2 separate regions of the Homo sapiens genome follow, and region 2 is linked to region 1. The links come from fine-mapping of genetic effects on gene expression. Tissue or cell type: unexposed skin. Region 1 holds a variant in brackets; the other region holds the start of a gene. All regions are shown on one strand. Distances are from middle to middle.

What was found. PIP is the estimated chance that this variant, and not a neighbour inherited with it, causes the effect.
Region 2: it holds the start of SLC45A4, and the variant in region 1 is fine-mapped to the expression of SLC45A4 in unexposed skin (GTEx, PIP above 0.99). The same link has a PIP of 0.9 or more in sun-exposed skin.

What each region holds. Positions count from the first base shown.
Region 1 is chr8:141,341,052-141,346,306 of GRCh38, forward strand. LINC01300 (long intergenic non-protein coding RNA 1300) reads left to right here. Exons shown (of 4, transcript NR_024441.1): 2 at 1,290-1,425; 3 at 1,907-2,164; 4 at 3,293-3,570. Among named protein-coding and RNA genes, the nearest start is that of LINC01300, 3.1 kb to the left of the region's middle. RefSeq lists enhancers at 1,122-1,622, 4,796-5,255. The variant G/C (reference allele first, on the strand shown) is at 2,620.
Region 2 is chr8:141,305,372-141,310,371 of GRCh38, forward strand. It overlaps SLC45A4 (solute carrier family 45 member 4), which reads right to left and starts at 2,917. Exons shown (of 9, transcript NM_001286646.2): 1 at 2,725-2,917. RefSeq lists silencers at 2,793-2,892, 2,913-3,152.

The DNA of each region.
Region 1 (5,255 bases):
GGCCCCCAACAGCTCAAGCAGGCTGGAGTTTGGTGCTCACGGAGTAGGGGAAGCTGGTGGCTTCTCAGGCTCATGACATTGTCCCTGCAGGGTGCAGGGCTATTCCCTGGTGGGGCTGGGGGTGTGTGTGGCCATTGGCAGGAGCCCCGATGTTCTCATCCATGAGTCAGCAGAGATGGGAACATCAATTTATTTGAGTGGCTGGTGCAGCCGAGTCCTTGGAGGACAAGGAGTTTTTGCCAAGCCTGGGCCGAATGTGCCAGGGCTTGGGGCAGGGAAACTGTGTCCAGGGACACAGCTTCAAGGGCCCCTGGTTGATGTCCCCAGGGCCTGCTGAGTGCCAGGCCCTGGGACTCAGAGAGGACACCACCCGATGCAGGCCCTGGGACTCAGAGAGGACACCACCGGATGGAGCTGCCCAAAGGGAGTGCCAGTCGGATGTGGGGGTGGGGGAAGAGGAGGGACCAGGATGTGACGGGTCCGAGGTCTCACGGGGTGCCCAGGTGGGCTGGATTTACAGAGCATGGGCGGCCTGCAGGACCATGAAGGGGCAATGGGGGCAGAAGACAGAGGTTGGAGGCAGGGTGGCATGGAGGGTCTCGGGGCAGGGGCAGGAGGGTCTCCAGGGTGGTCAGTCTGCTGCAGTCAGCAGAGGGCACTGGAGGGGCCTGGGCTCAGGCTCCAGGTAGAGCTGACCTAGCCCAGAATGGGCAGGTGAGGGAAGGCCACCGCCTGGTGGGCTTGGCTGTCCCCTCACCTGGACCCCATCGCCGGCCTCTTCCTTGCACGGGGTAGATGCTCATTGATGTGGTGACGTCTAGCAGGAGGATGGCCCTGGGCAGGGCTGTGAGCTGGGAGACCTGGGCTGGGATCTCAGCTTTGGGCCCACACACTGGGATGGAGGAGTGTTTACTGCTGTCTCTGAATGGCTGCAGGAAGGCTGAGGGGGCACATGGTTGATGGGCCAGGCCACTCTGGGCACAGTTGCTGAGAGTCGGCTCTTCCTAAGTGGGGGCACCCGGGGTGGTGGAAGGGAGTCAGATGCCAATTCCCAATGGGTCCTGGTGGTCGTGCCCTGCTGCAGGGCCTTGGCACCCGCCGCCATAGCCATGGAGTCCAGGGGGGCCCCCAGGGGCTGGAAAGGCAGGGAAACAGATTCTCCTTGGGAGCCTCCAAGGAAGCCAGCCCTGGCTAGCACGTCTGTGCTCTGTCTCTGGCTTTGCCTGTTCTGGACATCTCTGGAGGTGTGAGCACCATGTGGCCTTTCGTGTCTGGCTTCTTTCACTTAGCACGGTGGCTTCAGGTCCCTCCGCATTATCGCATGTGCCAGTGCTTTGCTCCTTTTTACACCTGAGTAATCGTCCACTGTGGAGTCATCCTTTCAGCTGCTGAGAGATGCGTGGGCAGTTTCCACCTGCAGCCATCGTGAGTAGTCGGGTGAGGCTGCTGAAGCAGACGAGTGAGGGCACTGCCCGGGCCATTTGGGCTGGAGCGGGGGTTTGAACTCCTCTTTGTGGGACGGAGGCTGTGTTCTTGCCCACACCTCTCCCTGCTCCAGGCCTGTCTTCCCCTTGGGACTGGGACTATGACTTGGTGGCTTCAGCCTCCGCAGGGTGAGCCTGATCCTGAGAGTCAGGCTGGGCTGAGGAGGACGGGTGGGCCTCCTGGGGGAGGTGACGACTTCGGACTGGACCTTGCAGGAGGGATGGGCTGTCTGAGGATGGGAGATGGGAGGAGGTATTGCAGGTTGGGCAGCAGGTGAGGCTGAGCTGGGAAGGGAGGTGGTTGAGGCTGGTTCTTGGGCTGAGTGCTGGGGAGGGGTCGGCCGGGGATCACCGAGAGGTCCCTCCAGGCTGCATGAGCAGAGGAGACACCCTACGGGTGATCTTCTTGCCTTTGTTTCTAGAATTCACAAATCCTACAATTCTAAGCTCTCAGAACCCTTGGATCTGAAGGTTCTCAAATGCTAAGGTTTCTAGATGTTAGCAGACGAAGGTGTCAAGACGCATGGGATCTACGATGCAGAGTTCTGAGTGGGGATATGCGTCCCCCACCCCGACTCACCCCACGACACATATCAGTAACAGCCTCTGCAACTCCGCCTTGGTGCCCCCGCACGTTCCAGGGGCAGCCACACTGATGGATTGCTCAGAACGGGCTGGAGGTGAGATGTGTTTGCCCGGAGCCCCCACACACTGTCGTCTCCAGCTGTGCCTGTCCCTCCCCACCTTCCACTCTGTGTCTCTTCCCTGCCCCCCTTGTGCCCCAGCCCCAGCCCCCCCTGTTCTTTCCTGCCACCCAATCCTGTGCCCCACGACAAGGAGGCTGAGCCCAGGGATGGCCAGGAAGGAACCCCCGGCAGGCTCTCAGGGTGGGAGAGAGGTTGTGGGGATCAGGGGCTTTGCAGAAGGGACAGGGAGGCAGCCCAGAGCACCCCAGCTTCTTGGCCAGCAGCAGGTAACCTGGCTGGAGGGCGGGGCCCCCATGGGCCATCCCTGGGCCAGCTGCCCAGGGCTACCAGGAAGGCAGCTTGTTTTGTAGGAGGTCAGGCAGCGCCCTAACCCCACCTCTTGTCTTCCCTGATGTCACACCCCAGGGTCAGCCCCTTGGGCCAGAATG[G/C]GGGTGATGGTGGGAACCGGGAAGCTGAGAGAACAGGGAGGAGGCCGGGTGGGGCACACCAGGCTGTGGCTGTGGGGATGGGGAGATTCCTCGCCTGGGCAGGCCGGGCAGCAGCGGGGCAGTCCTGGGGGGTGTGGTAAATGCTTCTGCTCTCTTCCCCTGACTACATGGGAGCCTCCGTCCCACCTCACCTGGAAAAGGGGCTTGGAACTGGGCTGCTCGGCCTTGGGCACACCAAACGGGGCCCTTGGAGCCCTGGGCTTCCTGGGGTGGCTGGGTCCCCACCCTGCCTCTGATCCATCCTGAGTCTGCATTTCTTCTCCAGGTGCCCCCTGCCCTTGGCCTCCCACCACGGCCTGGGAGTAGATAGTGGGCTGGGGCAGGCCCAGCGCTGTCCTCTGTGGGAAAGGAGGACTCTGGGCCTGGAAATAGTTGAGTGTGGACAGAAATAACCCTGACTGGCCTCAAAACAGAACATGGAAAATTAAATAGGGAACATTAGCATTCACCCCGCGCTTGCCACAGCCACTGTCCCATTTGGGAGGCGGGCGCGCTTATCCTCATTTAGAGACAGGGAAACTGCGGCCCAGAGAGGGGAGGTGACCTTCCTGAGGTTCCTCTGCCAGCCGGCCAGGCCCTGTGACCCCTGTGCCTCTGTGCTTCCACTACACAGCCGCATCTCCACTTCTGCCCCGACAGTTCCTGCTGCAGCAGATGCCCTTCCAGATGCAAACTCCTACGCATCCTTCAAAACCCAGCTAAATGTCACTTCCTCCGGAAAGCCTTCCCCACCTCTCTAGCAGGCAGTTGAGCCCAGCTTACATTTCCGACAGGCCCTCACTGCCCGGGATTGCAGCTGCGGGCTCCTTGAGGGCAGGGATTGTCCCTCATTCATCCTGATTCCATGCCAAGGCTTATAGTAGGTGCTCAATAAATGCTTGCTGAATGATAGATGGGCTGTGTGTGGTGCTAAGTTGAATGCCTTGTCCCTTTCCCACAATTTCATCTCAACCACCCAAGAATTTAGCGTGAGTATGGCTGTTTTACTAAGGAGCAAACAGGCTTACAGAGGTGAACTCACCTGCTCCAAGGTCACACAACAGTCAAGGGCTGGACCTGGGATTTGGTCCCAGCCCCGCAAACACAGCCCCACTACGTACCTAGCATGGGCTCAGGTAGGCCCTAGGGGTGGGCAGTGTATCTGACCACTCGTCCTGTCCACCTTCCCCTGCACCTGTGGCCCCACGGACCCCTGGGCTGGCTCTCAGGTGTGGCATCTCCACCTTCCCCCACAGGCCCAGAACCCACCCTGCTGGGCCAGCATCGTCTCCCAAGGGCTCCCACACAGACACAGTGGGAGCCCCTTCCCTCAGGCTGGCCCCCAACTTGTCCCCTTAGAGGGGTCGTTGGTAAGCACTGTGGCCTGAGGCTTCCTCTGTGAGAGACTTGTGGGGGTCATGCCACAGGGGAAGAGGGAAGTGAATGGATAGAAGGTTCTAGAACTATTAGCTATTGCAGGGACAAGATATGAAGAAAGGATTTCAAATCCTGGTTTAAAGAATCAGCCAGGCACAGTGGCTCATGCCTATAATTATAGCACTTTAGGAGGCTGAGGCAGGAGGATCCCTTGAACCCAGGAATTGGAGACCAGCCTGGGCAACATGTTGAGACCCCATTTCTACTAAAAGTAAAAAAAAAAAAAAAAAAAAAAAAAAAGATCTGACTATGGTTCCATGTGCCTGTAGTCCCAGCTACTGTGGGCATTGGGGTGAGGGTGGCTGTCGCTTGAGCCCAGGAGGTCAAGGCTGCAGTGAGCTGTGATTGCACCACTGCACTCCAGCCTGGGCGACAGAGCAAGACCCTGCCTCAAAACTAAAAACAAACAAAAAGAATCAAGGTTCTGGGGTTCTGGAGTTGTTTCCATCTTTCCGGCCTCCCGCAGTCCAGCAAAGGCCTATGGGTGAGGCAGAGCAAGTGCTGGAGAAGGTGGCAGCAGGTGGCCTGCGGGCCAGTGGACAGGAAGGAAGTGAGACAGCTGGCAGGCGACTCGGAGCCCGGGAGCGGGAGTGGGCTGGAAAGACCCCTGGCCTGGCCCTGCCTTGGCTCCCCAGAGGGTGTCAGGGCCCAGTGGCCACACTGCCCGCTCCCTGGGGCCCCCTGACAGGAGTTCCCACCGACCTCTCCAGGAATCTGGGGCCCGGGCCTTGTGCCCACCTGCCAGGCCAGTCCACCCTCAGCTGAACCACAGTGGGGCAGATGGATACACAGGCAGGGGCGTGGCCCAGCTGTCGGGCCAGGGTCTACTGGACACTGTCACTGTCTCCCTCTGTCCCTACAGGTGGGGCCTGTCCCCTCTGCCTGACCCAAGGGGCCAGAGACCGCCGAGTGACACACACCCAAGCACTCTCTCCCTTGCCACCGGCTTTGGGGCAGGTGCCAGTGATCTGGTTGGCAATGCTCAGGACTGCCTGTCAGGACATCTGAGCCCTCAGGCTGGTTTCTCACTCCTGCCCACACAGCGGTCTCGGCTGCCAGGCTGTGTGACTCGGGGTGGGGGGCTCTGACCTCTCTGGGCTCACAGGTGATGAATGAGGTTTTTAACCTGAGGACCATGGATGGCCGTGGGGGCTCTTGGC
Region 2 (5,000 bases), 36 kb before region 1:
TCAAATCTGTTTCCTGGCTCAGGTGGAGACAACCCTTCTGATGGTGTTTCACTAAGTGCGCCTTCGTCAGCATAATCACGCAGTGATGAAAACCTGGGGAACCTAGGAGGCCAGCGAGGAACAGTCCTCACCCATCATTAGCAGGAACGCGGCTTCCAGCATATTCTGCCTCCACAAATTACAGACACGACTCTGCCAGGGGTGTTCCCAAGAAGGGCACTGGCAATTTGGGGTTGTCTGCCACCTACAGTGCTTGTCAGTCACCCTCACTCGGTGCCAGGCCACAAGGCTGTTGGTCACAAACCACCCCAGCCAGCCACTGGGCGTCAGGACCCTCGGGAAGAGCGGGAGAGGGCACTGGGATGCACCACGGTCAGAACGACAATCACAGCCCGAACCCCTGCGCTGCACTCCTCTGTCCTCCCCACCTCTCTCCTGACAACACAGATACAATCCATTCACCACCAAGCAACCTCAAGATTGGCTGAAATACCTTCCTCGGCTCCTTTCCTCCATCGGGAAAGTGGGGAGCTGCCGCTGCCGCAGCCCTCTCCTTCCCTGCAGATCTGCGGGGCGGGCTGGGGCGGGATCTCAGAGCTCACGGAAAGGAGGCAGAATCCGGTTTACAGGCTTGCTCCGCCCCTCCCCCACCCCCCTCCAATAAGCAAAGTTAGAGGGTGTTACAAGCTGCAAGACACACACCTTGGAGCTCACCCAGTCCAATCTCTGATCTGCTTTCACGATGCGACAAGGGCCAAAGCTGCAGCACGCATCTCGGCAGGGCAGCAGGCCACTCCCCCCACGAGGCCCGGGAGGTGGCCCTGGGCAGCCTCCCCACTCCCCGCCCTGTGAACACCTGGGCCAAAAAAACACACCTTTAAATACCCAGTGTGTATTTCAAACACATTTCAAACGATTTGCTTCTTTCCTTTACAGCCACTGCCACAAAAACAATTAGCCTGAACGGGTGTGAAATCCTTGATGTGTAAGACGACCTAGTTCCCCAGCCTCTCTCTAGAAACACATGAGTTCTTTACTGCGCCTGAGTCTCCTCCACCCGGAACCTGCAGGGCTGCCTCTTCTCATCAAGTGGCTTCTGCAAAACCTCTCCCAAGCATTTAAATAATCTCTGCTCGTTCTTTTAACAATAATTCAAACCTAGCAGAAAAGTGAGGACACTATACATTTCTTTTAAGGACAGTGTGTGTTACCTGCTCTGATCCCCATGTGTTACACTCCCTAACCTGTACACCAATACTCCAGCTTTTTGTTTTCTTATTTTTTCCTAAAGCCAGCACAAAATAACAGAAGGATAAGATTCCTACCACATTCTACCTGTCTGCCAATGACACAGGAAGGATGAGACCGTCTGGGGAATGGAAGCGCAGGGCGCTCTCAGTAATGCTGGGCAGATGCAGTGGCTTTTCCCCAGCAGAAATGGGCTTCGATTCAGAATCTACCAGCCCACAAGAATCATCTGACCCCACAACAATTAGTTCAATCACTCATCTGGTAAACCCTCCTCGCTCCGGGTCATAGACTGGAAAAGACAGCCCCCAAAACAGTAATAAAAACGACAAGCCCTGTTTTGCTGGAGTCAGCTGAGGTATCAGATGGGGGTCAGTGGCTAGGTCTGTGAACCTGAAGCCACACTCCATCAGTGACCCGCACTGGAGAGACACAAACACCTCAGGCTCCTTAGGAGGTCAAGCGGCCCTTCCCAGCCCTCCCTAGCCCCCGCCTTCTAGAATCATTCTGAATAGCTAACCAGGAGGCTGGGCCCCGTGTGGATCCGCCTCCGCTGGAAAAGCCGCTGCTGGAAGTGCTCCAATCCAGAGCAGGATACCTGGGGGAGGAACGGGTTAAGCGCAAAGGGGAAAGGGGCAGCGGGTGCTGAGACGCAGAAGGTGCGGGGACTTCTACAGAGCAGGGAATCTGGGCCCGGATGAACTGATGCCCTGGCCTCTTTCCTCCAGGGACAAGGTCGGTCTCAGGAAATCAAGGTATCTTCAAAGGGACACAAGGGAGCGCAGTGCCGATGAGACCGGGGCAGAGCCACAGTCTGGCGGTGCAGGCTGGGGGTCCGAGGCGGGGGACACTGGCTAGCAGTGCTGCCAGGGTCGTGTGTGCACTGGGCAGAGGGAAAGGAGGGGAAGAAGGGAAGGGGAAGAAGGGGAAGAAGGGAGTGTGTTCGGTTGGGAGGACCGGTCCAGACAGAGGGGAGAGGGGGCCACTTCGCGAGTGGTGTATCGCTGGTTGAATTCTCATAAGTTAGAGATAGCAGGCAGGGGTTAGAAGGACAAGACAGGGTCAGGACCAGGAGTTAGAGGCGCCAGGCTCCTCTCTGGGTAGAGAAACCGAGGAACTGGGGGCGGGGAGGACTGATGGGTGCGAAAGCGGGCCGGGTCCAAATGAAGGCGCGCGCCCCGGGGTGGGGGCCGGGGTGGGGGGAATGAGGGAGGCTGCAGGGCTGGGGACCAGGGCAGGTGCAATCCGGAAAGAGGAGGCGGGAAGGAATTGGGGGGCCCTGAGGAGCCAGCGCAAGCCGGGTGGGGGCACGTCCCCTCCCCCGGAGAAGGTGCGGGGCTGGGGCTGCGGCGCGGACCCGACCTGGAGGCCGAGGCTGTGCGGGAGGTGGGGGTGGGGAGGCTGCAGGTGCCCGGCGCCCAGGTGCGAGGTGCAGGGGGCGGCGGGGCAGGCGGCTGCGGGCGGCAGGCCACTCACCTGTCTCCTCCGGCCGGGGCCGCGGGGGCGGCGGGGCGGCCGGGCCGGGCCGGGCAGGGGCTACGGGGGCGCGGAGCCCCGGGCGCACCGGGGTCGGGAGGCGGCTGCGGGTCCGGGCGGGGGCTGCTCCCTCGGCCGGCCGGCCGGGCGGTCAGTCAGCGACGCGGGCGCGGAGAGAGCGCTGCGAGGCTGCGGCCGGCGCGCGGAGACAACGCCGCTTTATCGGGTCGGAAACAGCCGCTCCGCGCCGCTTCCGCTGACGCAGCGCCGGCCCCTGCGCCTCATGACTATGCAGCACCCGCCGCCGCGGGACGGGGATTCGGGGGGCGGGGTCTGCGCCGCGCGCGCTCATTGGCCTCCGCTGCCGCCCACCCCGCCCCCGAACGGCCGCCCCGCCCCCGCCGCGCCCCTGCCCCGCCCCCGCGCGCACCGTGGCTCCCGCCCCCGTCTCGCCATGGCCCCGCCCCCAGCCATAATCCAGCCCCGCCCCCGCCCTCCTCCCGCTACGCCCCCGGCCCCGGCCCCGGCCCCGGCCCCTCCGCACCGAGCGTCCGCCCTCTCTCCCCTAAAGCGCTGGCCCGCAATCCACCCCATCCCTCTCTGCAGCCGCAGGAGGTGGCCCCCGCCTGTCCCCACCTTCTCTCCCCGCTCCTCTCGCCACTCTGTCGCAGAGGGGTCCGGCTAGCCACGAGGCCCCGGCCCCCGGCAGCCCAGCCCCTTGGCAAGCACCCTCCCGCCCCCTCCGCCCCTGCCCGTGGCGCGGCGACATGGGCCCCATCCAGGTGCTGCAGCCCCTCCTCCGCTGCAGGAGAAAACTCTCCTGTTTTCCCCTCCCTGCCACCCTCCGAAGACCTCCTACCTGGTCCCGGACCACGCCCCCGTCCCCAACTCCCCCAACGCCCCGCGCTCTGCGGGTCCCCTCTCCAACCTGGAGAGCGGGGCAGGACGAAGACCCGACCCGGAGCTTCCTGGAGGCTGGGCCTCCCTCTCAGGCTTGGCCCTGGCCAGGGACACTGATCCGTCTCTCCCCACGTGTAGAAGGGCCACAATCCCTAGGGCAGGACTGCTGGGAAACCCCATCAAGACAAGGTCTGGGGAGGCGGCTTTAACAGACAGATGTGATGGGCTGAGGCCAACCCTGTTAACGTCGCAGCCCTGCACCCTTGCCAGGGTTTAAGTTGCTTTGGAGGAATTACTTCATTTCTCAGAACCTTGGCGTCCTCATCTGTAAAATAGAAATCGTAAGATCCATCTCACCTGTTGCTAAAGGAATTTAGAAGTGAAGTGCAGAGCAGAGCCTCCAAGAGCATCGGAAATGGGAAAATCTGACCATATCAAGTGTTGACAAGGAAATGGAGCAACTGGAACTGCCAGACACTGTTGGTGGACATGCAAAGTGGTACAACTTTCAAAATCTTTTTGAAAGGCCTTGATTACCCAGCAATTCTGCTCCTAGATACACACCTAACATTGTGTTTCTGTTGATAGCAGCAGTGTTTATAATTGCCCCAAACTGGAAACTACTGAAATGCTCATCAGCCGTTAAATGGATACATAAATTGTGATATATTCACACAGTGGAATGACAGCAATGACAGTGAATAATCAACTACACACAACAACATGGATGACTCTCACAAATGATGTTGAGGAAAAGAAGCCAGAGGATAAAAAGCCATATTTGTTTCCATGTGGATAAAGTGGTAGAAGGTGTATATGGGGGTAGCAGTCAGGATAGTGGTTACCCTTGGAGGGAGGGGTGCCAGAGCCAGGAAGCAGGGCACAGAGGACGTGTCTGGGGGCTGGCTGTGTTCTGTGTCTTGGTCTGAGTGCTGGTTACAGTGTGCTCAGTTTATGATGACTTTTCCAGCTGTGCAGTCAAGATGCATGTGCCTGTGGGGCACGGTGATTCACGCCTGTAATTCTAACACTTTGGAAGGCCAAAGCGGGTGGATTGCTTGAGCCCAGGAGTTTGAGACCAGCCTGAGCAACATGGTAAGACCCTATCTCTATTAAAAAAAAAAAAAGACGTGTGTGTTTTTCCATGTGTATGCAGTATCTCAACAGAGGGTTAGTAAGTACATCAATGGTCTGTAGACAGTCCAAAGCAGCATCAGACACATCATGAGTGCTCAAACTGTACATCTGCTTCCCTGGTGATTTTTCTTTCAATGGCCAAAGGATAGAGGCAGCGGCAATTCCAGGTGTGCTGTGAGCCAACTGTGTGAGCCTGGGCGCCTACTTAACCTCCCTGAGTCCTCTTCTATAAGTGAGCA